Regions from separate parts of the Homo sapiens genome. Here regions 1 and 2 are each linked to region 3. Evidence: fine-mapped expression QTL. A gene starts in region 3. Each other region holds a variant in brackets. All regions are shown on one strand. Distances are from middle to middle. Region 1 overlaps TDRD9 (tudor domain containing 9). Region 2 has its middle 21 kb from the start of ATP5MJ. Region 3 holds the start of TDRD9 (tudor domain containing 9).

Region 1 (10,432 bases), 86 kb before region 3:
AATATATTAATCATAGAAATGGAACTTAAAATGCCGGAGGGAATTACCCCAAATTGAAAATGGACTTAATGTTCAACTTGAGTGAACTGGACATTAAAGAAAAAGTGTTTGTTCTTATTTACAAAGCTTTGTAAAGTTAAATAAAAATTTATACAACATTCACAGAACACTGGAAAAAATTTCTAACTTTAAAAATTAAAAATCCTACTTTAGGCTTTTTGGTACATAAACATTTCCTGTTAGAAATAAAAACTCAGTGATGCTCCAAAACACACATTTGTTCCTTACATGCAGTAAGTAGAGCCAAATTGAGTTTTTACAATGTTTGCCTTCCAAAAATATTCAAAACATATCTGCTTTAGACAACTATAAGCAGATACACTCTATTTTGGATCACCTTCATGGCCCACAAAATAACTCTTACTAATGACTCACTGAGAAAATCTCAGACCAGTGCGTGAAAGTGAAGATCACTTTAAGAGAATCCGCCTTAGCATCACACTGAGTTACTGAGCCTTCTTGGAGTGACCATGCTTGACCACTAACCAGCAGCTTAGTTCCTTTAGGAGGTCACTTAGCAGAAAGAGAAGACAAATTGCTTCTGACCATAAGATAAACCAAAGCTACATTCTGAAAGCCAATTGCAGCAGCCCATAGGAGGACCCATTTCCATGGGCACTCCGTTTTAACAATCAGCGTCTGGAAACATTTGAATCATTATGCCTCCTTCATAATTGCAGTTGATTACAAAAATATACTTACTTTGCACCATCAAATACAATGGATTTGACTTGACCACACTGTCTAAAGAGAGACTGTAGTTGTTTATAGTAAAGAAATCCATAGGGAGGAATGTGTTTCAACTGTAAAATATAACACAAAATCAGAGCAGATTACTAGAGCTAACAAAATAGTTTCAACATTCACAAGCTCAAAGCTGCTGCACACTGTTTTAGTTTCTAAAAACATAGTTTACTATCTTTAACCATAATATATAAACTCTACAGATCAGTGCATTTAAAGACTTTTAAATTCTAACTAAGTTCTATAATAAATATGTTAAATAAAGGCTAATTCTAACCCTGTTAAAATGGTGTAAGTCTAATACAGCAAAATTAAGATTTGTTTACTTCTGTTTTCCCTTAAAATAATCAAGCTTACTAAATACTTCTTTTCAAAACATATTTCTACATAAGGAATAATGGGAATGTAAACTTTAAAGGAAAATGTCTAACTAATGAGAGGAATATGTATTTCCTCATCACCACAGTGGAAAGACCAAATAGCACATGATCAAATTGGCAGTGACTTTTAATGTATAAACTCTCAAGGTACCATGCTGGGTTTCTGCAAAGCACTCCATACTTTCTTCTGGACCAGGACAACTCCTGTGCCAGCGCAGCTCTGCACGGGGCTCCGTGACAGAAGGCATGTAAGTGAAGGCATGGGCTGGGGCTCAGATCCAGTTAGATCCTGTCTCCTCACTCCCTGAATCCGCGTGTCTCCTTAGGCAAGTTACAGAGTTACCCTGAGACCCAACTGCCACATCATGAAATAAGAATGACATGAGAAATCCCCAACTCAAAGGGTGGAGTGAGGCTCAGAGAAGAATGAAAAGTACCTAACACACAGCCTCTCAAGTGCTAAGTAAAGCCAGCTATTATTGAGCTTTTATGATGTACACACTAGGTAATTTTGGGCCCCCAGACTAGGCTCTCTGTGGTCGAGGGATGCAGGCATAGCTACTAGACGTCTGAGGAAGAGACCTATAGAACCCTTCCTCTTGCGCACAGCTGAGGGAAGAAAACCACGAAGGGGCAGAGGGGTGAGAGAGGAAGCCAAGCAAAGAGCTTAGTCAAACCTGATGGCCAGCAGGAGCAGAGGTGCCAATCAAATGATCCTCAGTAGCTATAAAAAACTAATGACTTCCTTTTAAAGTCCCTTCCACGGGTATCAAGTGTATCTCAGCTGCCTCTCTCATCTCCAGAGCACCAGCTCCTTTTGGTGCTCATCAAAGACCTCCAGTTGTAATCTCAAGTCATCTGCGCCCTTTCCTTATGAGCTATTTATTTCTTCAGGACTAACAGTGGTGGTGTAACAATAACCAGGATAAAATCTGGCAATGACTGAGCCCTTACGATATGACACGAAGGAACTTCAAGCGCTTCTCACCCCGCCTTATCAGATACAGGCACATACTGGAACCAAGTGATCCAAAACAGTCCAGTCTCAGCTTTCTTCCAGTGTGAGTCTCCCTGCTGCTGGGCTTTAAACAACTGGGTTGCAAACGCTGATTCAATGGTCAGGGCCTGTGGCTGATCATTAGATATGCCCAAAGTACACACTACTTGAATGCTGATTTCTAGGGCATACTTTCTAGCTCAGATCTCGCAGAGCCTTCAGATCTGAATTTCAACGAATATAAATAAAATAAGCACTCTCCAGGTAGTTCTGTTGGGCATCCAGGTCGGGGGGTCACTGGCTTAAGCCACAGCACTCAGCTGCCAACCAATAACATTTTATTTTGTATGAAATGAAGTTGTGAATTAAGAAAATGTTCTTAAACTTGTAAGTGCCTTAAATCCTTCAAAATAGCACATGATCAAATCAGCATTGACCTTGAACGTATAAACTCTCAAGGCTTCCTTATAAGGCCAGGTCTGTAAAAGGAGGCAAGAGACTGAGGGACAAGTAGATACACATGAAAAGGCCAAACAAGCCTAGATACACCTGAAAAGGCCAAACAAGCCTAATATTCACGCCAGGGGAAAATTCACTTAGGACTCACAAGAATAGAAACAATTAGAGAACAAAAATGTTCTGCCCCACCACACCCCAGAGAGGACGGCCTGCCCCCAGCACCTACCACGACAGTTGTCTTGGGGTCCTTGCCAGCCAGCTCCCTCACCGCCATCTCCTCATCCGGCTGTCCAAAAGTAAAGTAATTTGGATAGAAAGCACCTGCCAATACAACCTGAAAAAGAAATTTATTTTCATGAAGTAACAGCATTATTTTATCAGTTATTCTCACCAATATACTAATCTCAACCCAGCATGATATGACATCCATAAATGTAAAAGATGGTTATCGTTTGTATGGAAAACTAGACCTTTCACCAACCAAGCAGAAAGTCACAATTCTGGTAATTTCATCTAACAGAAACACTAAAAAATAAACACTTTTTTCACCTAACAGAAACATCTTTCTTCAAAAGAGCTTGAGTACTTCTCAGAATGAGGCTTGGGAAACAGTGGCAAGTTGAACAAGGACATAAACCATCCTACACACAAAGCCCCAAGGTCGGCCAACTTTCTCCACTTCTCCCCACACACATCTATGTGCAAGGTACTCTCAGATGTTCAGATAAAACTCCAATTGGAGCACTCAGATTTAGGGCAGCAGGCTGGCATCCACTATTCACCTCTAAAATGCACTCTGCAAAGAGTCCCTTCTTCAATAAAAACATACCAGTTTGAAACACACCCACCAAAGACTCCCCCAGCCTTAGAGCAATTTTACATCCAGGAAAACACTCGCACATTTCCAGCACACCCGGTTTATAGGCATCTACCTCAAACCTGATTCCGTATGCATCAGCCAACCCTTCTAGGAAACCCTACAGCAGAGGCAGTCTCCACTGGCCAGGACACACTTCTCACTCGCTACATTCCAGCTAACTACTAGTAATTTGAATCCATGGCCTCCAAAGTTAAAATAATATTTTCAGTGTAGGGGAATAGCTATATACACTGAACGATATAAAGAGCACTTCACTTTCTTAAAAGCTAAAACAAAAGGATCTCTCCTGAAGCAGTGATAACACAGGTACTCTATAGAAACACTCCCCTGGAAATTAGAAATGGGTCTGAATCCATTAAATATTAATAAATAAACAATAAATACTCTCTAGGTGAATCATCAACTCAACAAATAATGCAAACTATGAAAGAAGAATGTTTCCTGGTTCCCAAACGCAGTATGAACACTATGGACCTAAAATCTCCTTTGAGGTTTGGTTTGTATCAGAAAGCAGGAATAAGCAGTTTCTCGACCACAAGACCTTGTAAGCAGAAAGAATCAGGAAAAAAAATATCCAGGAAACTTCAGCACACCTGTAGGATGAATCGCTGCTTATATATATACTCTTGGTCCATGACAGGTCGCCGAGAATCAACATGCATGTTGAACTGTGAGATTCTAGTCTTCAATTCTTCATATAATTCAGCCACCTAAGAAAAATACATTGAAATCTGATGTCTCAAAGGTACATATGTCATCAGAGCAGTGAAAACACTAGAAAATAAGTGCACAACGGGTAAAGTATAAACACAGCTACAGAATGAAACACTGCAGCTAATTAAGAATCATCTTTTGGCTGTGCACGGTGACTCACACCTCTAATCCCAGCACTTTGGGAGGCCAAGGTTGGGAGATCACTTGAACTCAGGAGTTTGAAACCAGCCCGGGCAACATGGCGAAACCCAGTCTCTACAAAAAAAATACAAAGTTAGCTGGGCGTGGTGGCGCAGACCTGTAGTCCCAGCTACTTGGGAGGCTGAGATGGGAGGATCACCTGAGACTGGAGGGCAGCGGTTGCAGTGAGCCAAGATTGTGTCACTGTACTACAGCCTGGGTGGCAGAGTAAGATTCTGTCTCCAAAAAAAAAAAGAAATAATCTCTTAAAAATTTTTATTATTATTATCTTTTTTTTTTTTTTTTTTTGAGACAGTCTCGCTCTGTTGTCCAGGCTGGAGTGCAGTGGCGCGATCACAGCTTGGTTCACTGCAAGCTCTGCCTCCGAGGTTCACGCCATTCTCCTGCTTCAGCTTCCCGAGTAGCTGGGCCTACAGGTACCCACCACCACGCCCAGCTAATTTTTTGTATTTTTAGTAGAGACAGGGTTTCACCGTGTTAGCCAGGATGGTCTCAATCTCCTGACCTCATGATCCGCCTGCCTCGGCCCCCCAAGGTGCTGGGATGACAGGCGTGAGCCACCATGCCTGGCCTAAAATTTATTTTTAGAGGCAAGATCTTGCTATATTGCCCAGGCTAGACAGTGCAGTGGCTATTCACAGGCACAATCCCACACGGATCAACACAGGAGTTTTGACCTGCTCCAACTTGGCTGGTTCACCCCTCCTTAGGCAACACAGTGGTCCCTGGCTCCCAAGAGGTTACCACATCAGTGTTGCGTTTAATGCAACACCCAATCAGCATGGCGCACTACAGCCCAGAACTCCTACGCTCAAGTGATCCTCCAGCCTCAGCCTCCCAAACAACCGGCAATACAGGCGTGTGCCACCATGCCTGGCAAGAATCATCTTCTTAGAAATTAATTAATAAGTAATGTTAAGGATGAACAATATAACACTTAGAGAAAATACCAGAATACAAAATCATATATGCTCCCTGATCTGTTTATAAACACACACCCCTGAGATGGGAACCAATGCAAACGCATAACTGTGCCCACCCAGAGGTCAGAATAGCAGAGAGCCATGACCACAGCCTTGCTTTAGATCCTTGAAACACGTCCCAGCCTCTGCCATGAACATGTA[C/T]GGCTTTTGTGATTAAAAACAAAGTAAGTGACCTATGGCCAAATAGTCCCTCCGAACAGGAAAATAAAATCAATATCCAGTTGTAATAAAAACTGTTTCACACAAAATGTCAAACTTTAATGTACACACATGAAAATACACAACTCCAAATACCTATGAACTGATCATAAATTAAGTCACCACAAAAGTATCTCAATTACAAAAAGAATACAGTCACAAGTGTGAACATAACTGGGGGGAATAACAACTAAAAAGAATTGAAAGGACAGAAAAACTCAGCAGCCACTATCTCTGTGGAGGGAGGAAAAGCCTGGGACATGGGAAGCAAGGGAGAGCACACTCAGATGCTCGCCTCTGTACCCCTGAGGGATGGAACTGTTTCATGTGACTGTAATCACATGTAAGTGAACTAAGTAAAAACCAAGACTATGCCACTCTCTATACTAAAATGCAATAAAATCAGAAATGAACAACAACAAAAAGATATTTAAAAACATTTCAGGGCTGGGCACGGTGGTTCACACCTCTCAGAGCTTTAGGAGGCTGAGGCAGGAGGATTGCTTAAGCACAGGAGTTTGAGGCTGCAGTGAGCTATGGTTATGCCACTGCATTCCAGTCTGGGAGACAAAGACCCTGTCTCTAAAAAATAAAAATAAACTCTTTAGTCAGAGAGGAAACCAACACTAAAAGAAATTATAGACAGGAATGTCAAAAATCAATAGGATGTGGTGGCTAAAGCTGCTCATAATAAAATTCATAGCTTTAAATGCTTTTAATTAGAAAGACTGAAAATATTATTATTAATAATAAATACTAATTTCAGAAAGACTGAAGTAAACTAAAAGTCAAAGGAGAACTAAATTAATGGAAAAAAAAAAAAAGCAATGATTTAGAATCCCACACCTACTCCTTCCCTCCCAAAAAACATACACAAGAAAACTGACAAATGAAACTAAGAGTAAGCTCTCTGAAAATACAATAACACAAAGGAAGCATCTTGCAGACTCTGCAGTAAAGGAGTAATCCAGCAGGCCTGGCTGTCCAGACCATGCACATTCCAGAGAAAGGCTTGGCCCTGGCCCAGCTCCTGAAAGGTCATTGCCAAGCCTCCAGGGACTCTTACCCTCCTGGATAAGAGTATGCATGCTGACCTGGGGCCTTGGGCCACACAAAAGAGTTCACGCTAGAATATGATTGACGGTGGGGCCTTGGGCCATGAGGGTAACAGTTTCCTCTGGAGGGACTGAAGACTGAGTAACTAAAGTCAGTCACATGGGTACTCTAGGCCTACATAACCAGTGCTCAATAAAAACCCAGGACACCAAGGCTCAGGTGAGCTTCCTGGTTGCAATACTTCATGCCTGTCATCGCACACTGTTGCTGAGAGAATTAATCACTGTCCATAAGACTCTACTGGGAAAGGACACCTGGTAGCCTGCACCTGGTCTCTCCAGGGCTCCTCCCATGCACTTTTTTTTTTTAACCTTTGCTGATTTTAATCCATATCCTTTGGCTAAAATAAATCATAAGCATAAGCATAACAGCTTTTCTACTTCTGTGAGTCCTTCTAGCCAATCAGTGAACCTGAGGATGGTCTTGGGGACTCCCTGAATATACAAATATAATCAAGAAACAATGAGAGTACACAAATACACAACAATAAGAACAAGAAAGGTGTTACCAGTTGACATGAATTTGAAATTAAGAAAATTACGTGTAACTATACATCAATAAACTTCATGATCTGGATTAAATGGGTACCTGAATGAAAAAACGTAACTCATCAAAAATGACTCCAGAAGAATTAGAATCCAGAATGGATCAGTAACTACCAGGGGTATTGAAATTTTTTTTAAAATTGATCCCTCAAAAAGGCACTAATCCCAAAGGTGTTTTTGAATGTGTTCTATCAAATATGTAAGAAATACATTTCTAGTTATTAAACTGTTGATTAAAATGGTTCCTGGGTACAGAAAGATGTTCATCCTACCAGGGTGGTATCAATAACAACATCTCATAGTATTGTGCATGCATGTGCGCACACATGCACACACACACACGTAAACCAGAGGCCAATTTCACTTATAAATATAGAGGCAAAAATTCTAGAGAAAATATTGGCAATCAGAACCGAGCAATGTTTTGGGAGAAAACATTACAAACAAGCAGAGTTTATTCTAAGAACACGTGGCTGGGTCAACAGTGGGAAATCCATCATGTATTCATGTATAAGTCATGCACCACATAGCAGTGTCTCAGTTGACCATGGACACGTATAGAACTGTGGACCCATAAGACCGTCACAGAGCTAGAAAATTCCTGTTGCCTGGTCACGTCATAGCTGTTGTAGGGCAACACGTTTACTCACGTGTCTGCAGTGATGCTGGTGTAAACAAACCTACTGTGCTGCCAATCATATGAAAGTCTAGCACATACAACACATACAGTACATTTCAGTTCACCCCTGAACAACATGGGGTTGAACAGCGAGGGCCCACTTATATGCAGGTTTTTCTCAACCAAATGTGGATCAAAAATACAGTATTCGAGGGATGCAAGCCCGAGTATATGGAAGGCCGACTATTCACATGGGCGCCACAGGGCCAACTGTAAGACTTGAGTATTCGTGAATTTTGGTATACAGGGGTCCTGAAACCAACCCTCCAGTGAATACCAAGGGATGACTGTACTTGATAATGATAGTAACTATGTTACTGGCTTATGGATTTATCATACTATACCATCATTATTTCAGAGTATATACTCCTATTTTTTTTTTAAATTAACTTCACATGTCTTGAAAGAAGTAGCAAAAAAAAAAAAAAAGGAAACAAACAAAGTTAATTATAAAACAGTCTCAGGCAGGTATCCTTCAGGAGGTATCCAGGAGAAGGCACTATTATACTGTAAGAGATGATAGCTCCATGTGTTACTGCCCCTGATGACCTTCCAGTGGACAAGATGTGGAGGCGGAAGACAGTGATACTGATGATCCTGACTCTGTGTACGCCTAGGCTAATGTGTATGTGTGTCTTAGTTTTTAACAAAAAAGTTTAACAAATAAAAATTATTTTTTAAAATAGATAAAACCAGTCTGGGCTACAAAGTGACACCCTGTCTCTACAAAAAAATAAAAGAATAAAAAAAATTAGGACAGGCACAGTGGCTCACACCTGTAATCCCAACACTTTGAGAGGCCAAGGCAGGCAGATCACAAGGTCAGGAGTTCAAGACCAGCCTGGCCAACATGGTGAAACCCTGTCTCTACTAAAAATACAAAAAAGTAGCCAAGCGTGGTGACGCACACCTGTAATCCCAGCTACTCGGGAGGCTGAGGCAGGAGAATTGTTTGAACCCGGGAGGCAGAGGTTACAGTGAGCCGAGACTGTGCCATTGCACTCCACCCTGGGTGACAGGGCAAGACTCCATCTCAAAAAAAAAAAAAAAAGAAAGAAAGAAAAAACAAATTACGAGTGGTGACATATGCCTGTAGTTCCAGCTACTGCAGAGGCTGAGGCAGGAGAATTGCTTGAGCCCAGGAAGTCAAGGCTTCTATGAGCTGTGATCATGCCATTGCACTCCAGCCTGGGCAACAGAGTGAGATCCTAGCTCAAAAACCAAATAAATAAGGAAATAGATAAAAACTTATAGAATAAGGATATAAAGAAAGAAAATATTTTTGCATAGCTGTACAATGTTTGTGTTTTAAGCTAAGTGTTAATATGAGCCAAAAATTTTTTTTAATTAAAAAGTTTATCAAGTTAAAAAAAGTTATATTAAGCTACAATTAATTTTTTAAAAATTTTTATGAACTTAGTGTAGCCCAAGTCTGCACTGTTTATAGTCTACAGTCATGTGCAGTGGTGTCCTGGGCCTTCACATTCCCTCACCACTCACTCACTGACTCACCCAGAACCACTTCCAGTCCTGCAATCTGCATTCACCATAAGCTCCCTATATTGGTATGCCATTTTTATCTTTTATACCAGTGATCCCTAACCTTTTTAGCACCAGGGACCAGTTTCATGAAAGACAATTTTCCCACAGGCCGGAGTAGATGGGGATGGTTTCAGGATGAAACTGCTCCACCTGAGATCTGGTATTAGTTATATTCTCAAAAGGAGAATATGGCCCAGGTGTTGGGAAACCCTGTTTTATAACCATATTTTTACCGCACCTTTTCTATGTTTAGTTATGTTTAGGTACAGAAATACTTACCATTTTGTTGTAATTGCCTACAGTGTTCAATACAGTCACATGCTGTACAGGTTTGCAGCCTAGAAGCCATAGGCTACACTATACAGCCTAGGCGTGTAGTGGGCCATACCATCTAGGTCTGTGTAAGTATGTTCTATGCTGTTTGCACAAGGATAAAACCATGTAATTACTCATTTCTCAGAATGTATTCCTGTCATTAAGCAATGTAAGATTGTATTAGTGGGTAAAAAATTAAAATACCATATGTTTATCTTTTTCTTTTTCAAGACAGGCTCTCGCTCTGTCACCCAGGCTAGAATATATTGGTGCGATCACGGCTCACTGAAGCCTCTGCCTCCCAGGCTCATGCAAACCTCTCACCTCAGCTTTCCCAGAAGCTGGGACTACAGGTGTGAGCCACGACACCCAATCTCTTTATCCTGACATATACTGAAAAGACATACAACAAGATGACACAACCATTCCTCATTAAAGTATACATAGGGGAAATACATTCCTTAACTGGAAAAGGAGTATTTATTAGAAACCCAAGTAGTTCTACTGAAAGGTGAAAACACAAGAGACACTCCTACTAAAGCTGGAAACAGGCAGGAAATACACTTCTTGGAATACTCATTACTACCCACGTACTTAATAAATATTGTTGTCATTTAAT
Region 2 (10,432 bases), 27 kb after region 3:
CCTCCCCCTGCAGGAGAAAGCGGCAGCTGGCGCTGGCCTCCCTAGCCCTGCTTCTACCACTGCTGCTGGCACCAAATGCAAGGCGTGAGGAAGAGGGTCGGGGTCTCAGAGGTCAGCCACGCTTCCTGAACTTTGTGGCGCGCACGCCATACTCGGGACAGTGGCCATGGAGAGGAAGTAAACGATGCTGCTCCCACCTCAGTAAAAACTGTAAACTAGGTCGTGTTGGAGTTGGAATATTATAAGTGTTTGTAGAACAGATGAAAATTAGGAGTGGTAAAAGAGGAATACTAAAATTTTAAAAATCGTAATAAGCCTCACATAAAAAGCACACAGAGTATCATTCTAGTTTTTTTTTTTTTTCTTTTTTTTTCGAGACAGAGTTTCACTCTGTTGCCCAGGCTGGAGTGCAGTGGTGCGATCTCCGCTCACTGCAAACTCTGCCTCCCAGGTTCACGCCATTCTCCTGCCTCAGCCTCCCAAGTAGCTGGGACTACAGGCACCCGCCACAGTGACCGGCAAATTTTTTGTATTTTTTGTATTTTTAGTAGAGACGGGGTTTCACCGTGTTAGCCAGGATAGTCTCGATCTCCTGACCTCGTGATCCGCCTGCCTCGGCTTCCCAAAGTGCTGGGATTACAGGCGTGAGCCACCGCCCCCGGCCTATTCTGGTTTTATTGTGCCATGTAAAAAGTGTTTCCAGGCCGGGCTGTAGTCCCAGCTACTCAGCTACTCAGGAGACTGAGGCGAGAGGATTACCTGATCCCAGGAGGTCGAGGCTGCAGTGAGCCGTGATCATGCCACTCTACTCCAGCCTGGATGACAGAGTGAGACTGTCTCAAGAAAATATATATATATATGTATTTCTGCAAATGCCTGTGCACAGCCTGTGCCTCTTATTTGTGCCCCTGTACCTGAGATCATTCACATAGGTTGGATTCGGGTTCCGGCTGGAGCTACTGCTCATTGCCTGTGTGGCCTCTGGCAAACTCCGTAACTTCTCTGGGCCTCGGCTTTCTCATCTCTAAATTAAGACTTCCAGAATCTCTCTCAGCTCTGTAATTCTATAGCTAATGGATTTGTAATGAACCTAAATTGCATCATCCAAAAATAAAGTAAACTGTGAAGCAATTGTAGGATAGATGATAAATTGCAGATGTATGTAAAGGACATGAATTCATCTCTTGTAAGCCTGATATCTAACAAAGGACCAGGCATTTATGGTAGGTACTCATATCTTTTAATGAATTTAATTAAATAAGGATGCTAATTAAAAAATAATTTCCTAGCTCTTGCTAAAATAGAGTAAGGGATATCTTTAGTGACTATATATTACCAATTACTCTATTACTAATGACAAGGAAATGACAGAATGGTTTCTGACTTCCTGGCCAGGCCAGAGGGAAGGACCATGCTCAGTGCAGCTATTGTGGTCCAGGAACCTGGTAGCTCTTTCTATTGCCAGAGTAGAAATTTGATTTAGCCTGTCCTCCAGAGCTAATCAGTCTGGAGGCAATGAGTCTCCCATAACTGAACTCCAAGATACTGATGCTTACCATAGACTCCACTGGGTTAATTAATAGAAATAAGCCTGTTAGGTGGACCAGACATGAGACGTAAGAAACTACAAAGAAAAGAGCAAATTTTTCCCAAGCCAAAGATGGGAAAGACAAGAAATTAGACGTTTCAATGGAAGAGAAAACAGAGAGCTGGGCACTCTGGCATGTGCCTATAATCCCAGGCTCAGGAAGCTGAGATAGAAAGATTGCTTGAGCTCAGGAGTTCAAGATCTCCCTCAGTAACATAGCAAGACCCCATCTTTTTTTTTTTTTTCAAGATGGAGTCTCGCTCTGTCACCCAGGCCAGAGTGCAGTGGCGCAATCTCAGCTCACTGCAACCTCCACCTCCCCGGTTCAAGCGATTCTTCTGCCTCAGCCTCCTGACTAGCTGGGACTACAGGTGCGTGACACCACGCCCGGCAATTTTTTGTATTTTTAGTAGAGACGGGGTTTCACCGTGTAGCCAGGATGGTCTCAATCTCCTGACCTCGTGATCCTCCCGCCTCGGGCTTTCAAAGTGCTGGGATTACAGGTGTGAGCCACCGCACCCGGCCGCAGGACCCCTCCTTAAAAAAAAAAAAAAAAGAAACGAAAAAGAGAAAAACAATGGAGAAAGATCAATGAAACCAAAAGCTGGTTCTTTGAGAACGTCAATAAAATGGATAAACCGCTAGCCAGACTGATCAAGAAAAAAATAAAGGAAGAAGATAAAATCAATATCAGGAATGAGAGAGATGCCATCTGGTCTTGAACTCCTGGGCTCATCTAAGGGAAACACAGCAGAGATGGAGGAGGAGGGATTGATTACAAAAAGTCAGGAGGAAACTTTGGGGGGTGATGGATCTGTTCATTTTCTTGATTGTGGGGATGGTTTGACTGTGTATATATATGTTAAAACTCATTGGCGAGGCTCGGTGGCTCATGCCTGTAATCCCAACACTTTGGGAGGCCGAGGCAGAAGAATCACTTGAACCAGGAGGCGGAGGTTGCAATGAGCTGAGATCGCATCACTGCGCTCCAGCCTGGTGATAAGGTGAGACTCCATCTCAAAAAAAAAAAAAAAACTCATCAAATTGTGCAATTAATGTGAAACTTACCAATAACCTCCAAATTATGTAGACATAATGTTATGTGGAGACTTTATACTTCAATAAAGCTATAAGAAAAGTTTCTGGCCGGGTGCGGTGGCTCACGCCTGTAATCCCAGCACTTTGGGAGGCCGAGGCGGGTGGATCACGAGGTCAGGAGATCGAGACCATCCTAGCTAACACGGTGAAACCCTGTCTCTACCAAAAAAATACAAAAATTAGCTGGGGATGGTGGCGGGCGCCTGTAGTCCCAGCTACTCAGGAGGCTGAGACAGGAGAATGGCGTGAACTGGTGAGGCGGAGCTTGCAGTGAGCCGAGATCACGCCACTGCACTCCAGCCTGGGTGACAGAGTGAGACTCCATCTCAAAAAAAAAAAAAAAAAAAAAAAAGGTTTCTAAAAATTCTATGCTGGCCAAGCGTGGTGGCTCATGCCTGTAATCCCAGTACTTTGGGAGGCTAAGGCAGGGGGATTTCTTGAGCCCAGAAGGTTGAGGCTGCAGTGAGCCATGATCGAACCACTGCACTCCAGTGTGCGGGACAGTGAGACCCTGTCTCAAAAAAAAAAAAAAAAAAAACCTGGGCGTGGTGGCTCACACCTGTAATCCCAGCACTTTGGGGGGCCAAGGTGGGCAGATCACCTAAGGTCAGGAGTTCAAGACCGGCCTGACCAACACAATGAAACCCCGTCTCTACTAAAAATACAAAAATTAGCCGGGTGTGGTGGCGGGCTTCTGTAATCCCAGCTACTCGGGAGGCTGAGACAGGAGAATCGCTTGAACCCGGGAGGTGGAGGTTGCAGTGAGCCGAGATCATGCCATTGCACTCCAGTCTAGGCAAGAAGAACAAAACTCCATATCAAAAAAAAAAAAAAAATTCTAGGCTAACCCTCAGAAAATAAAGACCTAGTTTTTCAATGAATGAAAAGTATCCAATATGATACATTAAATCCTGTCTCAAAACCATTGATAATTCTCAGAGTGCCTGGGCTGAAATTTACCCCTTTATTTGAGCAAATAGTTTCTTCATAGATAGGGAAATTTAGTGCTATTTAATCAAATGTGCCAGAGTAATATTAAAATATTTGAGGAGTCCTGGGTGGGTGCGGTGGCTCATGCCTGTAATCCCAGCACTCTGGGAGGCAAAGGTGGGCAGATCACTCGAGGTCAGGAGTTCGAAGCCAGCCTGGCCAAAATGGCGAAACCTTGTCTCTACTAAAATTACAAAAATTAGCCGGATGTGATGGCACATGCCTGTAGTCGCAGCTACTCGGGAGGCTGAGGCAGGAGAATCACTTGAACCCAGGAGGCGGAGGTTGTAGTTAGTGGAGATCACGCCACTTGCTCTCCAGCCAAGAGTGAGACTCCACCTCCAATAATAATAATAATAATAAAATATTTGAGGAGTCCTAAAATGTAAGTACCCATAAGCATTTAGAAATACCCACCTACAGATAAGTAAGTGAGGTGGTCATTATACATCATTCTTGGCCAGTAATCCAGGCTTGAGATGCTGTGTGAACTTGTAAGCAGCAAAAGAAGATAAAAAGGCATTCTTCATAAAGTTAAGAATTAAATGAGATATCAATAAGCCTTATTTTAAAATAATTCATCATGCCAGGCATGGCGGCTCACGCCTGTAATCCCAGCAATTTGTGAGGCCGAGGTGGGTGGATCACCTGAGGTCAGGACTTCGAGACCAGCCAGACCAACATGGAGAAACCCCATCTCTAAACACAAAAATTAGCTGAGCATGGTTGTGGGCACCTGTAATCCCAGCTACTCGGGAGGCTGAGGCAGGAGAATCACTTGAACCCGGGAGGCAGAGGTTGCAATGAGCCGAGATCGCGCCACTGCACTCCAGCCTGGGCGACAGAGGGAGACTCCATCTAAAAAAAAAATAATAAAATTAAAAATAAAGTAAAATAACTCATCATTTAGTTTTACATAACTCAAACTTGCTTTCTCTGTTCAGTGATTGAGGTTTCGTTACATTCATTGGTTGAATTCAAAATAGAATTCACTTAGGATTGATTTGCAAGCACAATATACTCAGAATACAGCAGACAAGTGCGACTCGCATGTGAGAACTCTGGGGGTTCTAAGTCAGGTGTGTGGGAGGGAACGCTGCTCCCACGATATGCCAGGAAGGGAGGGCTCCCGCGGGGAAGCGGCCCTGGGAGTGGCGCCCCCTGCTGGACAGCGCGCCGGTGCACACCAGCGAGCGAGAAGCTCTGCGCTGCTGGAGGAAAAGTGGGTTCAAGCCAAAGCTTCCCAAAGGGAGTCACCTTGAGGCCCCTTCTGTCGGAACATGCTGAGATGCTGGTGCTCCAAGCCCAGGAATCTCTGGCTCTTCCTGAGTGCCCACCCCATGATGAACAGCTCCTCTTTAGTCGACCTCTTTCGCCTGGGACCCACACCTGCCACTCTCAGCCACGCTCTGCACATGCCTTTCTGGGGTCACAAAGCTCATTACACATCTTCCTTGGTTGAAAGAAGAATTTCAGCCAGGAGCGGTGGCTCACGCCTGTAATCCCAGCACTTTGGGAGCTCGAGGTGGGAGGATCATCTAAGTCCACGAGTTCGAGACCAGCCTGGGCAACAAAGTGAGGCCCTATCTCTAAAAAAAAAAAAAAAAAAAAAAAAATTGTTTGTTTTGTTTTGTTTTGTTTTGTTTTTGAGATGAAGTCTCGCTCTGTTGCCTAGGCTGGAGTGCAATGGTGATCTTGGCTCCCTACAACTTCCGCCTCCTGAGTCGAAGCAATTCTCCCACCTCAGCCTCCCGAGTAGCTGGGATTACAGGCGTGCGCTACCACGCCTGGCTAATTTTTGTATTTTTTAGTAGAGACAGAGTTTCACCTCGTTGGCCAGACTGCTCTCGAACTCCTGACCTCAAGTGATCCCCCCATCTCAGCCTCCCAAAGTGCTGGCATTACAGGCGTGAGCCACCGTGCCTGGCCAAAAAAAAATTTTTTTAATCGCGCAGTGGCACATGCCTGTAATTCCAGTTACTCAGGTGGCCAAGGCGGGAGGATTGCTTGAGCCCAACCAAGAGCTAGAGGCTGCAGTGAGCTATGGTGGCACCAAGTACTCCAGCCTGGGCATCAGAGTGAGACCCTGTCTCAAAATAAAAAAAGTGCTGGAGGCTCATGTTCCCCCGTTGCAGCGTGTGACCACTGACTGCCAGGCACACTCTAGGATCAAGCTGCTGCAAGCACCAACAGGACCTGGGCCGAAACTCGCCTCCTGAAACCCACCTCCTGCTTGTCTTCTCCTGTTTCCATAAGCATTGAGAAGCCTGCTCTCCTCCGCACCCCCCAGTAAGCCACCTGAGCACGAATCCCCACCTGGGCGGATGTGGGCAGCACACAGGTAATCCCGGGGT[G/T]GCCACCCTGCCCACACCACCCACCGTGCTCTTCTTCACATCAGCTGCCTTCAGGTGACTGCACATCCCAAAACTGCGTGGGAACACCACCGTGGGCCTACCCATGTCCTGAAGTATCCAGGAGACTGGCGGGATGCCCGTCGCCTCTCCCTGCCCCACAAAGCGACTACTGTGGGGACCGCAAGGAGCCACATGGAAGAGCTGCCTGTCCTGGCCGGCTCAGGCTCTCCCCAGGCTGAGGACAACCATGGGACTGATAGAGACACTCTGTTGTTGAGATTCGGGCTTTCTCTCTTTCGAAAAGGGGTGAAGACGAAGGCTTGTGTCTGCATCTCCTCTCTGGTCTCAAAGCTGAGTGGCTTTTCCAGGGAAGCCAGCACCCGCGGCCTCTCATGCCAGCCCAAGCAGTTCTGAAGCCCACCCCTGTGACGAGGCGCTGCCGGCTGCGGAGCCTGTGCCAGCACGTCTCATCACCCAGGCGGGCTCCCCAGGCCCACAGGATAGCTCTGCCCCCAGCCATGGGTACTGCCAGGCCATCTCCCCACCCCACCCGGAGGAATTGAGGGCCTCTGCCTCACACACACATCCCTTCCCCGCAGCCCAAGCACCAGCACACCAGCAGGTGGAGAGAGTTGTTTCACTTGTGCTTGAGAAGGCGCCTTCCCTTCTAAGAGGAACTGCAGATGTGAACGTTTGCAAATCAAATTCCAACCGAAATGGCCTGCAGTGGCAGTTCTCAAAGGGTTTCCTGGGGCCACAGCAGCAGCATCTGGGAACCTGTCATAAATGCAGGTTCTTGGGCCCCACCCAAGACCTGCTTTGGGCCCTCCGTGATAGGGCCCAGGCCTGTGTTTCAGGAGCCCTCCAGGAGATTCTGATGCATACTCAAGTGCAGCCCACTGACCTAAAAGAGCCTGCCTTTGAAGGAAGCCTGGAGCAAGGCCTTCTGCAAAGACTTGAACCACCCGCAGTTCTGCCCAGTCAGCACAGCTGAATTTTCCTCCAAATACAGCACAGGGTGCACCCACCTTCAGAAGAAAAGCCCCCCGGCCCAGCTTCCAGGTGTCGTGAGGAGAGCAGCCGCAGACCGAGGCTGCATACCTGGGGCTGGGCTCCCTTCCCCTCCCCTGCCGCCCTGCCTGCCCTGCTGCAGGAGGCGAGGCCCGGCTGTGTGCTCACTGCTCCAGGCCTGATGATGGCTGGGAGCATTCAAGGAGCCACCCCTACCTGTGCCTGGGGCGCAGTTGGTCTTGTCTTAAACTCAATTTCTGGTAGACCTGGAGGCTGGGCTCAGCCTCAGTCTCCCTCCACCTCTCCACCATGTGTGTCAGGCAAAGAGGCTGGGCTTCCCCGCTATTTTCCTGCCCTGAGCTGAGCATCAAGCTGGGCCTCAGAGATCCTTCCTTTCTCCCCATGCTCCCCTCTCTCCAGGAGGGGAGGGACTCTCCTCCAATCTCCAATATATGGTACATATACATATATATATACCAAAACAAAGATGTAGCTGCTGTCACTGCTGACCAGAACACCCTTCCGGTGTGCCTTCCCACCTGAGCTGTGCCTGCACTCACCAGCCCCCTTGGGCAGATTGCCACTGTCTTTAGGAGCCAGGCTTATACCCACCTCTCCCCACATGCCTACCCAACTCTCAGGTCCCAACATGCCCAGCAGTTGAGCCAACACAAGTTGATCTAAGTTCATCAGAAGGTGAGTGTTTGACTGATTCTATACTCGCCACACAGGCCCACCCTCGTCTCATGCAAGTGACAGCCCCAACTCCACTCCTCATCTCCCAGCCTGTGAACCGAGGCAGCCATGGAGCCTGGAAGGAGAACAGACTCCAGTATCCACAGACGCCCATTCTAAGATGTTCTCACGGGGGATCAAAAGAAGCTGAGATCTACCCATGTTGGCCCTGTCGGGACACAGTATCTTTTGGGGATCCAAGAAGACACTGTGGGCCCCAGGACTCCTGGATCCCAGAACTGTGGCTGGCCCTGGACACAGAGCGGCCTAGAAGATCTTGGCTCTGTGTCTCACTGGGGCCTCCTTGACCCATTTCCAAGCTGTCCTCTCTCCTCCCCGTGCCTGCTCCCTGCTACGCTGCTCCGCTCCTCCTGACTAGGGTCACGATGCTGTGTGGGGCCCCATGGCACCCACACGACCTTTTGGCCATATTTCCCTTCTCCAAGGAGCCTCCCTCTTCTGTTTATGGTCCAAACCTGAATGGGACATCTGACTGGCCCGGCTCATCTTCGGCACCAGCCTATAGGTCTCCCGCCAGCCTATGCGCGAGCTGCCCTCGGGCCTGGTGTCCGCCGGTGATCCATGCCGCGTGACAGGCCAGGGTTTCAGGGGTTTCCTTCCCCACAGCTCTGCTCATTGTCTCTCTCCACCATTGAGACGCCCATCTGGGTCCCTTATATTTTGGTTTTTAAACCTCCCGGTTTCATGCAGTTTTATTTCATCTTTAAAGGTTGACACATGGTTGTCAGCCCAGCGGCCCTGGTCTGGAAGTCCAGGTTTGGGTGGCAATGGCGGTGAGAGTGCTTTGGGCCTCGGTGCCAGAGGCCAGCCTGGTGATTTAGACACCTCCTCCCTGCCAGGAGCCTGTGTTCACTCCAGTTCTTTCAAAGTGGCTGCAGAGGGGGGAGGTGGGGATTAAACGGAGGCTCCTCACTGCAGCAGAGGAAAGCAACCCTTGCCAAGCCCCTGGTCTTGTGCCAACTCCCTGCTGGTTTGGGGAAAGCTGATGAGGGTGGCCCGCCATGCTCTGGTTCTCAGGACAAAGTTCAGAAGGTGAGCCCAGCGTCCTGGCAACAACTACCCCTGGCTGCTCCGTGGCCACCGTGGGAGTGGTTAATAAACACCCGGGCTGGAGGTGGTAACGCCTATCTTCCAGGAACTTAGTTCAGAAGAGCTTTATGACCTGGATGGAGTCACCTGTTAAAGAGTAACGTACACCCCATATTACACTCGAGTCCCAGGAGTAACTATCCAGGGGAAGTGTTTATTTCCATGGGTGAACAAAGCATCCTTTGGGGGAGACCCTACCAGCACCAGGCTCTCCTTTGATGGGAACTGTCTGGCCCAGGCCTGGGGAATATGCAGCCTTGCAGCTACCAGTTAGCCACTTTGGGGGTGAGTTTATCCTACACAGTTTATCCTTGCTCTCCCCAGAGTGAGGGATTGAGTGGGCTGGCAGGAAACCAAAAGGAATCTACCTGTCCCTCCCACTCCCCCCACAGGCCCACATGGCGGGGAAGGAAGGCGGGATCCATCTCCACATGACGGGGAAGGAAGGCAGGATCCATCTCCACATGATGGGGAAGGAAGGCAGGATCCATTTCCACATGACAGGGAAGAAAGGCGGGATACGTCTCCACACATGATGGGGAAGGAAGGTGGGATCTATTTCCACGTGACAGGAAGGAAGGAGAGATCCATCTCCATGTGGCTGGAAGGAAGGCGGGATCCGTCTCCACATTGCCAAGCTACACCCTGTGGTTTCTCTCCTCGTCTGGCACAAAGGCAGTGCTCATCCCTCAGTGTGGGGCCATGGCAGTACAGGTACCCCCGTCTCCTCTGGGGTCTCACCACGTCTCACGGATCCTCCTGGAAGGGGTGCTACAGCTCTCCAAGCACTTACTCTGGGCTGCACCTTCAAGTCTGGGAGAGAGCTTTGCTAAAATACAACTTTCTGAGTCCAGCCCTGCAAACCTACCCAGCCCAGACCAGCCGAGGAGGAGATGGGGAGCCAAGTGCCTGGAGGAAGGAGCCTGGGGCTGACCAGTGCTGGATGATTAAATTAAATTCCTAGGGTGGTGCGTGCCAGTAATCCCAGGTACTCAGGAGGCTGAGGTGGGAGGAGCACTTGAGCCCAGGGGGTCAAGGCTGCAGTGAGCCATGATCACACAACTGCAATCCAGCCTGAGTGACAGAGTGAGACCCTGTCACTTAAAAATAAAATGCTCCCTGGGCCGGGTGCGGTGGCTGACTCACGCCTGTAATCCCAACACTTTGAGAGGCCAAGGTGGGCAGATCATGAGGTCAGGAGTTCGAGACCAGCCTGGCCAATACGACGAAACTTGGTCTCTACTAAAGATACAAAAATTAGCTGGGCGTGGTGGCTGGCACCTGTAATCCCAGCTACTCCAGAGGCTGAGGCAGGAGAATCGCTTCAACCTGGGAGGCGGAGGTTGTAGTGAGCCGAGATCACGCCATTGCACTCCAGCCTGGGCTACAAGGCAAGACTCTGTCTCAAAAAGAAAAGAAAAGAAAAGAAAGGGGGAGGGGAGGGGAGGGGAGGGAGAATCCAGCTATGTAGTCAGGTTGGGAAGGCCAGGAGTGTGAACCCCACGGGATGTGATGGGACTGGGGTCATGTGGGAGGCAATGCTGGC
Region 3 (10,432 bases):
GATCTTCATGAGCCAGGAGTTAACGTGAGCTGTGAAGACAGGAAAGTACACGGCAGAAAGCACAAAGAAACACAAGGCAGAAGGAAGCTGGGAGTGACGCAAGGCTCCCAGCCATGGGCTGCAATCCACAGGAAAGCTGGTGCTACACACTGGAGAATGCTCAAAATGGTATATCACAGCCACTGAGGTTTTCTTCTTCATATGCCAAGGTGAAGACACGAGAATGTAAGGATAACAGAAAGAATAATCACCATCAAAGAGTAAAATACAGTACCATGTGGAAGAGGAGACATGGGGAAATCCGTAAAAATCACTGGAAACAAAATTTATAAATTGTTCCCCACAGGCACTCCGGCAACACCTTCATCGTGAGTAAGGTGTTACTCACCTTCAGCATGAGCAAGATTCATGCTGGGACCCACAGGCGCCCACACCATCTCCGGCAATTCTTGTCTGAACTACCTATGATGTAGTCTGGCATTTTCTATTTATTTTTTAATGCTGGTGGTCACTACTCATTAAGCTGATTAAAAAAAAAATTGCCCATGTTCTTCTGCTGATTTAAGCTGATTTAATCATTAAGCTGATTTAACAACACTCTCTCAGACCGGACTGCAGTGACTTGGTGTACACTAATTTTACCATTGAGTGACTATCTCTAACAAATACATTTTAACTGTGCAATACCCTATGCTTATAAAAGCCATCCCTCCCGGCCGGGCGCAGTACCTCACGCCTGTAATCCCAGCACTTTGGAAGGCCGAGGCAGGCAGATCACGAGGCCAGGAGATCGAGACCATCCTGGCTAACACGGTGAAACCCCGTCTCTACTAAAAATACAAAAAATTAGCCGGCTGTGGTGGCGGGCGCCTGTAGTCCCAGCTACTCAGGAGGCTGAGGCAGCAGAATGGTGTGAACCCGGGAGGCAGAGCTTGCAGTGAGCCGAGATGGCGCCACTACACTCCAGCCTGGGCGACAGAGCGAGACTCCGTCTCAAAAAGAAAAAAAGCCATCCCTCCCCTATGTCAAATGTTCTCTCACTAATGTCAATGCCTCACTCAACACTCTCCTTCACTGGGAAAAATAACATTCAACAAGTATCCAAGTATCCACTATGTGCCAGGCACCGTGCGGGGTTCACAGGTCGGCTCACCCCAATCCGAACCCAGCTCTGCCACCAGATTTGTACCCTAATGCAGTGCTGCCTCAACAAATCGCAAAAACATAGCAGTTTCAAACAAGGCAAATTAATTACAAGTCCAGGTGAACTCAACTGGATCCCCTGCTTAGGGTTTCCTAAAGCTAAATCAAGGTGTTAGCAGAGTTGCGTTCCCTACTGGCAGTGCATTCAGGTTGTTGGCCAAAACCAGGCCCTTGCAATTGTAGGATCAGTCCCTTGCAAACTCAGTCCCTTGCAATTGTAGGACTGAGGTACCCATTTCCTTACCTGCTGTCAAGTGGGATCCAGTCTTTGCTCCTAGCTGCCCATATTCCATTCTCATGCTTTCCATGTGGCCCCTCCGAGCAATGATATTTCAAATCTCTCATTTCAAATTTATCTGACTCCAGCCTGAGAAAGTTCTCTGCTTTTAAGGGCTCATGTGATCAGACTGGGCCCACTCAGACAATCTAGCTAATCTTCCTGTCCTATGATCTGTAACCTTAATTACAGCTGCGAAATCTCTTTCACCATGTAACATTACATAGTCACAGGTTCCAGTGAACATCTTTGGGGGAGTCATTCTTCCCATCACCACCATTTGCTACAGGAAGTTGGGCAAGTCACTTTACCACCAAAACCTATTGCTTCATCTACAAAATCATGAAAGAATCAGTTGATGATAAAGCCATCAACCTCAAAGTGTTGTTGTGCGGATTCAATAATATAGCTATATTTAGCTGAGTGCCTGCTACGTGCTGGAAACTCTGGCATTGAATACATATGCACCTAGAGCCCAGGAAGCTACTTCCAGAAGAATTTCATCAAAACTAGCACTACTCATAGACCAACATTGCCTGTCACTGGTTAAATACAGAAGTTAAAATGTTTACATCAATTTCACAAAGTAATTTTACATATGTTGAATTTTTTTTTTTTTTTTGAGACAGGGTCTCATTCTGTCACCCAGGCTGGAGTGCAGTGGCACAATCTCAGCTTACTGCAACCTCTGCCTCAGGGACTCAAGCAATTCTCCCACCTCAGCCTCCTGAGTAGCTGGGGCGGCAGGCACAAACCACCATGCTGGGCAAATTTTTGTTTTTTTTTTTGGTAGAGACAGGGTTTCACCATGTTGGCCAGGCTGGTCTTGGAACTCCTGACCTCAAATGATCTGCCCACCTTGGACTCCCAAAGTGCTGGGATTACAGGTGGGAGCCACCACACCCAGATTGAATCTAATAATTTTTTAACTGCGATTAGTATGTTGTCTTTTTTCATTTCATTGCTCTGAAAATTCATTTTTATTGATTTTATAAAAGTCTCAGTCCATGAAGGACTAGAAATCTTAAAAACTTGTCCTTAGTGCTTAAAATGGCACTTAAATCTATACTTTCTGACAAGGTCAATAATAATTTACTTCCAATATTACAATGGGTTATTTAATAGCAATGCTGTTCACACCGTTAAAACTAAGGAGTAAGTGATGGACCATTAAGTAGGGGAGGCGGCCCACAGGATCATTTACCAGAGTAGCTCAAGGAAGTAAAGTGTGCAAACATACAAACAGCAACTCCAAAGTTGCACAAGGGGTCTCTCGGTCCCCCCTATGCCTCTAAGAACCAAATTTACCAAAGATCCCAAAGGTGTACTTGAAAGAACTCTACAAAGGCTTGAAGCAACCCACGAAAGCTTGACCCAGAGTCTGGGCCTATCCATCAAATCAGACAAGACTAACAAACAAGAGTAACTTTAAAAAAGAAAAATAAAGCCAGGCACGGTGACTCACACCTGGAATCCCAGCACTTTGGGAGGCCGACATGGGTGGACCACAAGGTCAGACCGACCTGGCCAACAAGGTGAAATGCTGTCTCTACTAAAAATACAAAATAAGCTGGGCGTGGTGGCACACGCCAGTAATCCCAGCTACTCGGGAGGCCAAGGCAGGAGAATCGCTTGAACCCAGGAGGCGGAGGTTTGTGGTGAGCCAACATTGCGCCACTGCACTCCAGCCTGGGCAACAAGAGCGAAACTATGTCTCAAAAAAAAAAAACCAAGAAAAAGAAAAACAAAACCACCTTCTCAACTGTAAAGCGTGCTGGACTTGGGGACTGAGCAAGAGTGACGGAGATACTCCAAGCTGGAAGTACTTCTCCCAGGGCCTTTTTAAAGAGCGAGAAGAGGGAGCAGGTGTTTCTACTCACCAAATCTACGTCTTTCCTCTAAAAACAGAGGATATACTCTTGCTTTTTATTTCCACCCAAATCAAGTGAACAGAGTAACTGATGGTAGCTACTTAAAGAATAGTGAGATGAGGAGGGAGTCTGTGAAACTTAACAAAGATTCAGCATTTGCACTCCTTGGTATTTACCCAATGAGTTGAAAACTTATGTCCACACAAAAACCTTGCCAAAACTTGGAAGCAGGCCGGGCGCAGTGGCTCACGCCTGTAATCCCAGCACTTTGGGAGGCTGAGGTGGGCAGATCACCTGAGGTCAGGAGTTCTAGACTAGCCTGGCCAACATGGTGAAACCCTGTCTCTATTAAAAATACAAAAATTAGCCAGGCGTGGTGGCATATGCCTGTAGCCTCAGCTACTCGGGAGGCTGAGGCAGGAGAATCGCTTGAACCTAGGAGGGGGAGATTGCAGTGAGGCGAGATGGCGCCACTCCACTCCAGCCTGGGTAACAAAGTGAGACTCCATCTCGGGGGGTGGGGGGAGAACTTGGAAGCAACCAAGCTCTCCTTCAGTAGGTGAATGGAGATAAACTGTGGTACATCCAGACAGTGGAATATTAATCAGTGCTAAAAGGAAAGAAGCTATCAAACCATGGAAAGGCATGGAGGAACCCCCAAATGCATACTAATACTAAGTGACAGAAACCCATCAAAAAGGCTACACATACTGTGTGATTCCAACTAGATGACAGTATGGAAAAGCAAAATTATGGAGACAGTAAAAAAATCAGTGGTTTCCACGTGGTGTAGGGAAAGGGAGGCAGGAACAGTGGGGCCGAGAAGATCTGTAGGTCAGTGAACTCTGTAATGCGTGACGTTAGGCGTTTGTCCAAACCCACAGAACGTCCAGTACGAGGCGTGAACCCTCCTGTAACGATGGCCTCCGGGTGACGAAGACGCAGCGATGCAGGTTCGCCGACTGTCACAAATACCCACACCTTACGCAGATGCTCACAGGGGAAACTCTGGGAGGGAAGGGGCCTATGGGACCTCTGCCCTCCGCTCCGTTATCCTGAAAACCTGAGTGCCTCAAAAACTAGTCTGTTAAACATTAAGAACTGAAAAAAAAAAAAAAAAAAAAACCTCTAGCTCAGCTTCCTTACAGGCACCGCTCTGGGCCGCGCGTCGGGTTGTGTAGTGACCACTCGCCCTGGACGGTCAGGGGTCCCTGGAGCCCCGCGAGAGGGCACGGGCTCGCGAGAAGGATCTGGATGGCCCGTGCCCTCGTCGCCAGGCCTCGCCCGGCCGCCCTCCAGCCGCCTCCGCCCCGCCCGCGTCCTACCTTTCGAACGCAGCGGCCGGCCGGGCCGGAGCTTGGGCCAGAGCCGGAGCCTGGGCCGCGGGACCAGCGCCGGGGGCCACGTCCTGGCGCTGCACCTCCTCCCTGGCCGCCCCTGCCGGGAAGGCGGGCGGCGCGCCCAGCAGCTCCACATTGGTCACCGTCTTGCCGATGGTGAACCAGTCGTTGATCTGCTCGATGGTGAGCTTCCGCAGCATCCTCAAGGCCCAGGCGTCGGCATCCCCCAACTGCCGGGTCTCCGCGGCGGGAACAGGCGACGGCGGAAGCGCACCCTGGAAGCCCCGCCCCCGCTCGAGGCCTTCCAATCAGAACGCGCCGCGCGCCCTTGTGGGCGGGCTCCGGCCCGGGCGCGTGCTGCCCGCGCTGCCTGGTCCTCGTGCCGCCGGCCCCGCCCCGCCGCGCTAGGCCTGCCGGGAGCCGCCGCCCCGAGCGAGCCCAGGGTGAGCCTTTCTAGGACCTCAGGGGAAGCTTGAGCGCCGCGGCTGGCCCGGGAGTCTGTTTCACGGGAGTTCCGTGGCAACCCCTGTGTGTACAAGAAAATGCCCTCCGGTCACTCCCTGGCCTCTCTATTTAGAGGCTGCTGCCTCGGAGGTTTGTGCGCTTTGAGCGGACCGGGACCCTACATACGTTTCTTGAGCACCTCAGGGTGAGGAGATGGAAGGCAAACCAGAGAAGGGATTTGCGTTCGTGGGTCAGACGTACCAGGACATCCTTGCACCTAATATGGGGGGAGAGGGGCAAGAAGAAGGTCAGGAAGGTCTCGGAGAAAGTAACGCCAGGCAGACCCCTGCAGGATACGGGGGAATGCGCCAGACGGAGGACCACCCAGGGTTATAGGGGAGGGCAGGCGGCCCTGATGGCTGAGGTGAGGATCTGGGAGAAGTTCTTTGCAGCCGGATCATAACTGAATTCATCTTCCTTCCTAAACCGGTGTCTCAGGCGGCGGTGTCAGACTCACAGCTGGACACAAACAGGTGCGGACAGGAGGTCCAGGCGATCACATGGACCAAAGATACAGGCTGAGGTGGTCCCGGCCGAGCTCTAGAAGAGTGAGGGTGGAGAACAGAGCCCTAGCAAACTCCCCAAAAGAAGGAGCCGCGGGAAGAAATCAACAAAGGATGCACGGGAAGGCAGCCACGTGTGCAAGGGAAGGGAGGGTCAGAAGAGAGACATGGCCACCTGCCTGGGGTGTGTCCCCCTCACTGGCCAGGGCAGGATCTATCTGGCCCATGTGGGCTCTCAGGAAAGAGCCATGTGAACAAATACAGAGACGGTATCGAGAGCATGGCTCTAATCAGCAGTGTAAAGCCCAAGCAGTGGCAAATAAGAGGGCGGTTTGAAAACACTGTAGACAGAAATCAGGCAGGTAGGTTGAGCTATTGGTGTCTCAAAAATTGAACCCATAATCATACTAAGCCAGGAGTTCTGGCTCCAAATCCTGGCATAATGAGCTCTAGACCTCATATTAGGACTCTGCCAAATACGACAGGTTCCCAAAAGTGCCTCAACACACTTTGCCAGGAAGAAATAACTTGCTTTTCTTTTTTCTTTTGAGGCAGGGTCTCACTCCTGTCGCTGAGGCTGGAGTGCCGTGCTGCAATCAGGGCTCACTGCAGCCTCAACTTCGGGGGCTCAGGTGATGCTCCCACCACAACCTCCTGCATAGCTGGAACTACAGGCTCACGCCACCACCACACCGGCTAATTTTTTATATTTTTAGTACAGACAGGGGTTTCGCTGTGTTGCCCAGGCCAGTCTCAAGCTCCTGGGCTCAAGCAATCTGTTTGGGAGCCCTTGGCCTCCCAAAGTGTTGAGACTACAAGCATGAACCACCATGCCCAGTCATGTTTTTCAAAAAATAAGAAAAAAGGTAATCATAAAGTAATTGAGACTCATGGTATGTCATTCAGCATTGATTGGAAAATATTGTAACTTCACACTGTATGTGGAGGCTAGGACATAATTCAAAATTTTACAAAATATATTGAAACCACTTGAAGCAACTCCAGAACTCACACTTGTTTTGTTTTGTTTTTTGTTGTTGTTTTGAGACGGAGTCTTGCTCTGTCACCAGGCTGGAGTGCAGTGGCGCGATAGCTCACTGCAACCTCTGCCTCCCAGGTTCAAGCAATTCTCCTGCCTCATCCTCCGGAGTAGCTGGGACTACAAGCATGCACCACCATGGCTGGCTAATTTTTTGTATTTTAGTAGAGACGGGGTTTCACCATGTTGGCTAGGAAGGTCTCAATCTCCTGACCTCATGATCCGCCCGCCTCGGCCTCCCAAAATGCTGGGATCATAGGCGTGAGCCACCGCGCCTGGCCTGTTTTTCTAGGATGTTGCTGTTACCGTGTGCTGTCATCCTTTGTTGATGTCACAATGAATACGATTTTAAGTGGAAGATGCTTTTCAAAAACATTTTCTGGGGGGCATTTTCTATATTCTTTGATCTTTTGGGCTACTAGCTAATCCTTCTGAGTTTTGATTTTTTTTTTAATTGCAATCCAAAGATACTCTCTTGATGCTTCTTTGGAAATTTGCCAATTTGGAAAGTTGCCATAGTGTTTCCTGACCAAACACTAGTTAACATTCTGAATCATCACAGACTGAATGGCTTTGAGCACCTTTCATTTGATTCAGTAGTTCTCGGTGCTCCCAACTCACTTGGTCAAGTTCACCTTGCATTGCTGTCCAAAGTTCAGAGTTAAAAGAAACAGCTTGGGCTGGGCGCGGTGGCTCACGACTGTAATCCCAGCACTTTGGGAGGCTGAGGTGGGCAGATCGTGAGGTCAGGAGTTCAAGACCAGCCTGACCAACATGATGAAACCCCATCTCTACTAAAAATACAAAAATTAGCTGGGTGTAGTGGCGCGCACCTGTAATCCCAGCTACTCGGGAGGCTGAGGCAGGAGAATCGCTCGAACCCAGGAGGTGCAGGTTGCAGTGAGCCAAGATCGCACCACTGCACTCCAGCCTGGGCGGCAGAGCAAGACTCTGTCTCAAAAAAGAAAAAAGAAACAAGAAACAGCTTGACATCAGATAGATCTTCATGGACTTGTCACATCTAGGCCAGAACACATGGGAAGGCCACTGAACCCCTAGTGAGCCATGGTATTTTGGGAAGGTTTTGCATATTTGCATTCACTGAGCATTTGAGCGTCCACCAAAAAGGGGAAACTAACAGCTGAGAGCAGTTACAAATGGTGTTGGTGCCATTCAGCAGCACTCTCCTCAAAGCAGAGGAAGCTGTGCTCGAAGTAGCTTGCTGTCTTCTCCAGCCTTCCTACCACAAGATGCAACATTCTGCACTTTGAATAAATCTGCTGGAGTGGCCCTTTCCTTAAACATTTAGGTTTTTTTGGCCGGGCGCAGTGGCTCACACCGGTAATCCCAGCACTTTGGGGGGCTAAGGCGGGCGGATCACGAGGTCAGGAGATCGACACCATCCTGGCTAACTCGGTGAAAAACCATCTCTACTAAAAATACAAAAAATTAGCCTGGCGTGGTGGCGGGCGCCTGTAGTCCCAGCTACTTGGGAGGCTGAGGCAGGAGAATGGCGTGAACCCGGGAGGCAGAGCTTGCAGTGAGCCAAGATCACGCCACTGTGCTCCAGCCTGGGCGACAGAGCAAGACTCTATCTCAAAAAAAAAAAAAAAAAAAAAAGAAACATTTGGTTGTTTTTTTTTTTTAAGATGTGCGTTTCTTAGGGTGTTTTGGATTTGAAACTAAAGACATTAAAACTCTCTTGGTCTGAGCACAGTGGCTCACGCCTGTAATTCTGACACTTTGAGAGGTCAAGGTGGGAGGATCACTTGAGGCCAGCAGTTCAAGACCAGCCTGGGCAACATAGCAAAGTCTATTGATCTCAAGTCTAGTTGGAAGTTCAGAAGCTCTGTCTTGAAGCAGCTCTCCATGATGTTCTTCCTTAAGTTTTTCCTAAATGCTTGTTCTCGTCCTCAGCAGTGTTATAAGTCATTATAAATCTAAAACTCTAAAACATTTTTACTATAGGACAGTGGTTCTCAAACCTGGTTCTGTCTCAGAACCCCTTTACACTCTTAAAAGTTGCTGAGGACCCTAAAGAGATTTTGTTTATGTGGGTTATGTCTATCAGGGATTACAACTGAGAAATGTTTTTACTTATTTATTTTAAAATGATAAACCCGTTTGATGTTAAACAGTGTATTTTTCTAAAACGTCACTATGTTTTCCAAAAAACATTGTGTGTGTGTGTGTGTGTGTGTGTGTGTGTGAGAGGAATAACACTTTTACATTTTCAAAGATCGCACCACTGCACTCCAGCCTGGGCGACACAGCAAGACTCCATCTCAAAAAAGAAAAAAAATGATTTTAACTGGATCTTGAGCCTTTTATTATTTTATCTTGACACATCTGAGCTCGTTTTCCTTGTGCCTGAATAATGAACATTTATTTTACTGTGGATCTGCTTGTGATTATTTCAGTCCTAGCTGCACCATTTTATAAACCCCCCACCATTTCACAGACCCTGGTCGGAGTGAAACATTCCATGGGGGCTCTGACCATAAGAAACATCCTGCCCAACTGCCTGACTGCGGGAACATCCTTATCACATCCTGCCAGGCAGCAAGCCATACTGCCCAGACCCATCCAGCCCAGACCTATAATTACCCCAGCCTGGAAGCGGCAGTGAGCTCGGGCACTAAACTGGTTATCCGCTCCACGGGTTTTTGCTGGCAATAAACCTGTGTTGCTGTTGAAGCCACCATCTCTCTCCCCTCTCCCCTCCCCCCCTCCCTCTGTGTGTGTGTGTCTGTCTTGTCTGTCTTTAACCCTTGCCTTCCCTTCAAAACCTAATAATTTCCTCTTTTTTTTTTTCCTTTAAAGATGGGATCTTAATACATTGGCCAGGCTGGTCTCAAAATTCTGGGCTCAAGCAGTCCTCCCAAAGTGCTGGGATTACAAGCATGAGCCACCATGCCTAGCACGATTTCCTCTTAGTTTGTCCTTAACTGTCTTTATTTTACCTTCTTTTCTGAATGCCAATTTCCCTGTGTATAGAATTCCCTGTGTATAGAATTCTTGATTGGTGGTTACTTTCTTTGAGATTTTATCTTTATCTTTTCTATGGCTTTATTGTGAGATTTCAAGGTATTGATTTATTTTTATTTATCTGCCTGCTTGGTTTCTGTAAGGCTTTTTGTTTGTTTTTTGTTTTTTGTTTTTGTTTTTGAGACGGAGTCTTGCTCTGTTTCCCTGGCTGGAGTGCAGTGGCGCCATCTCTGCTCACTGCAAGCTCCGCCTCCCGGGCTCACGCCATTCTCTCACTCAGCCTCCGGAGTAGCTGGGACTACAGGCACCCACCACCACACCCAGCTAATTTTTTTGTATTTTTGGTAGAGACGGGGTTTCACCGTGTTAGCCAGGATGGTGTGGTGATCCGCCCGCCTTGGCCTCCTAAAGTGCTGGGATTACAGGCGTAAGCCACCGCGCCTGGCCTCTGTAAGGCTTTTTGAATCTTTGGCATGATTTTTTTCTCATCACTTTTGGAAAATTCTCAGCCATTAGCTCTTCAGATATTTCTGCCTCACCTCTTTAATTTCCTTCTAAGATACCAATTACCCATATGATTGGTATCTTTCCTGCTGTATCCCTCTTATTTTCTGAATGGCTTCTTCGATCTTGCAGTTTATTCTTTAACTGTCTAATCTGCCAAATCCATCCAATTTTTTGTTTTGTTTGTTTGAGACAGAGTCTCG

What was found. PIP is the estimated chance that this variant, and not a neighbour inherited with it, causes the effect.
Region 1: its variant is the best candidate, but not a certain one, in a credible set for the expression of TDRD9 in whole blood (TOPMed, PIP 0.54).
Region 2: its variant is the best candidate, but not a certain one, in a credible set for the expression of TDRD9 in blood mononuclear cells (TOPMed, PIP 0.83).

What each region holds. Positions count from the first base shown.
Region 1 is chr14:104,008,523-104,018,954 of GRCh38, reverse strand. TDRD9 (tudor domain containing 9) reads right to left here. Exons shown (of 36, transcript NM_153046.3): 21 at 4,114-4,230; 22 at 2,867-2,974; 23 at 763-863. It also overlaps the pseudogene RN7SL634P. Among named protein-coding and RNA genes, the nearest start is that of RD3L, 71 kb to the right of the region's middle. RefSeq lists an enhancer at 859-2,058. The variant C/T (reference allele first, on the strand shown) is at 5,560.
Region 2 is chr14:103,895,638-103,906,069 of GRCh38, reverse strand. No RefSeq gene overlaps it. Among named protein-coding and RNA genes, the nearest start is that of ATP5MJ, 21 kb to the left of the region's middle. RefSeq lists a silencer at 4,727-4,786. The variant G/T (reference allele first, on the strand shown) is at 6,031.
Region 3 is chr14:103,922,969-103,933,400 of GRCh38, reverse strand. It overlaps TDRD9 (tudor domain containing 9), which reads right to left and starts at 4,945. Exons shown (of 36, transcript NM_153046.3): 1 at 4,677-4,945. The coding sequence starts at 4,891.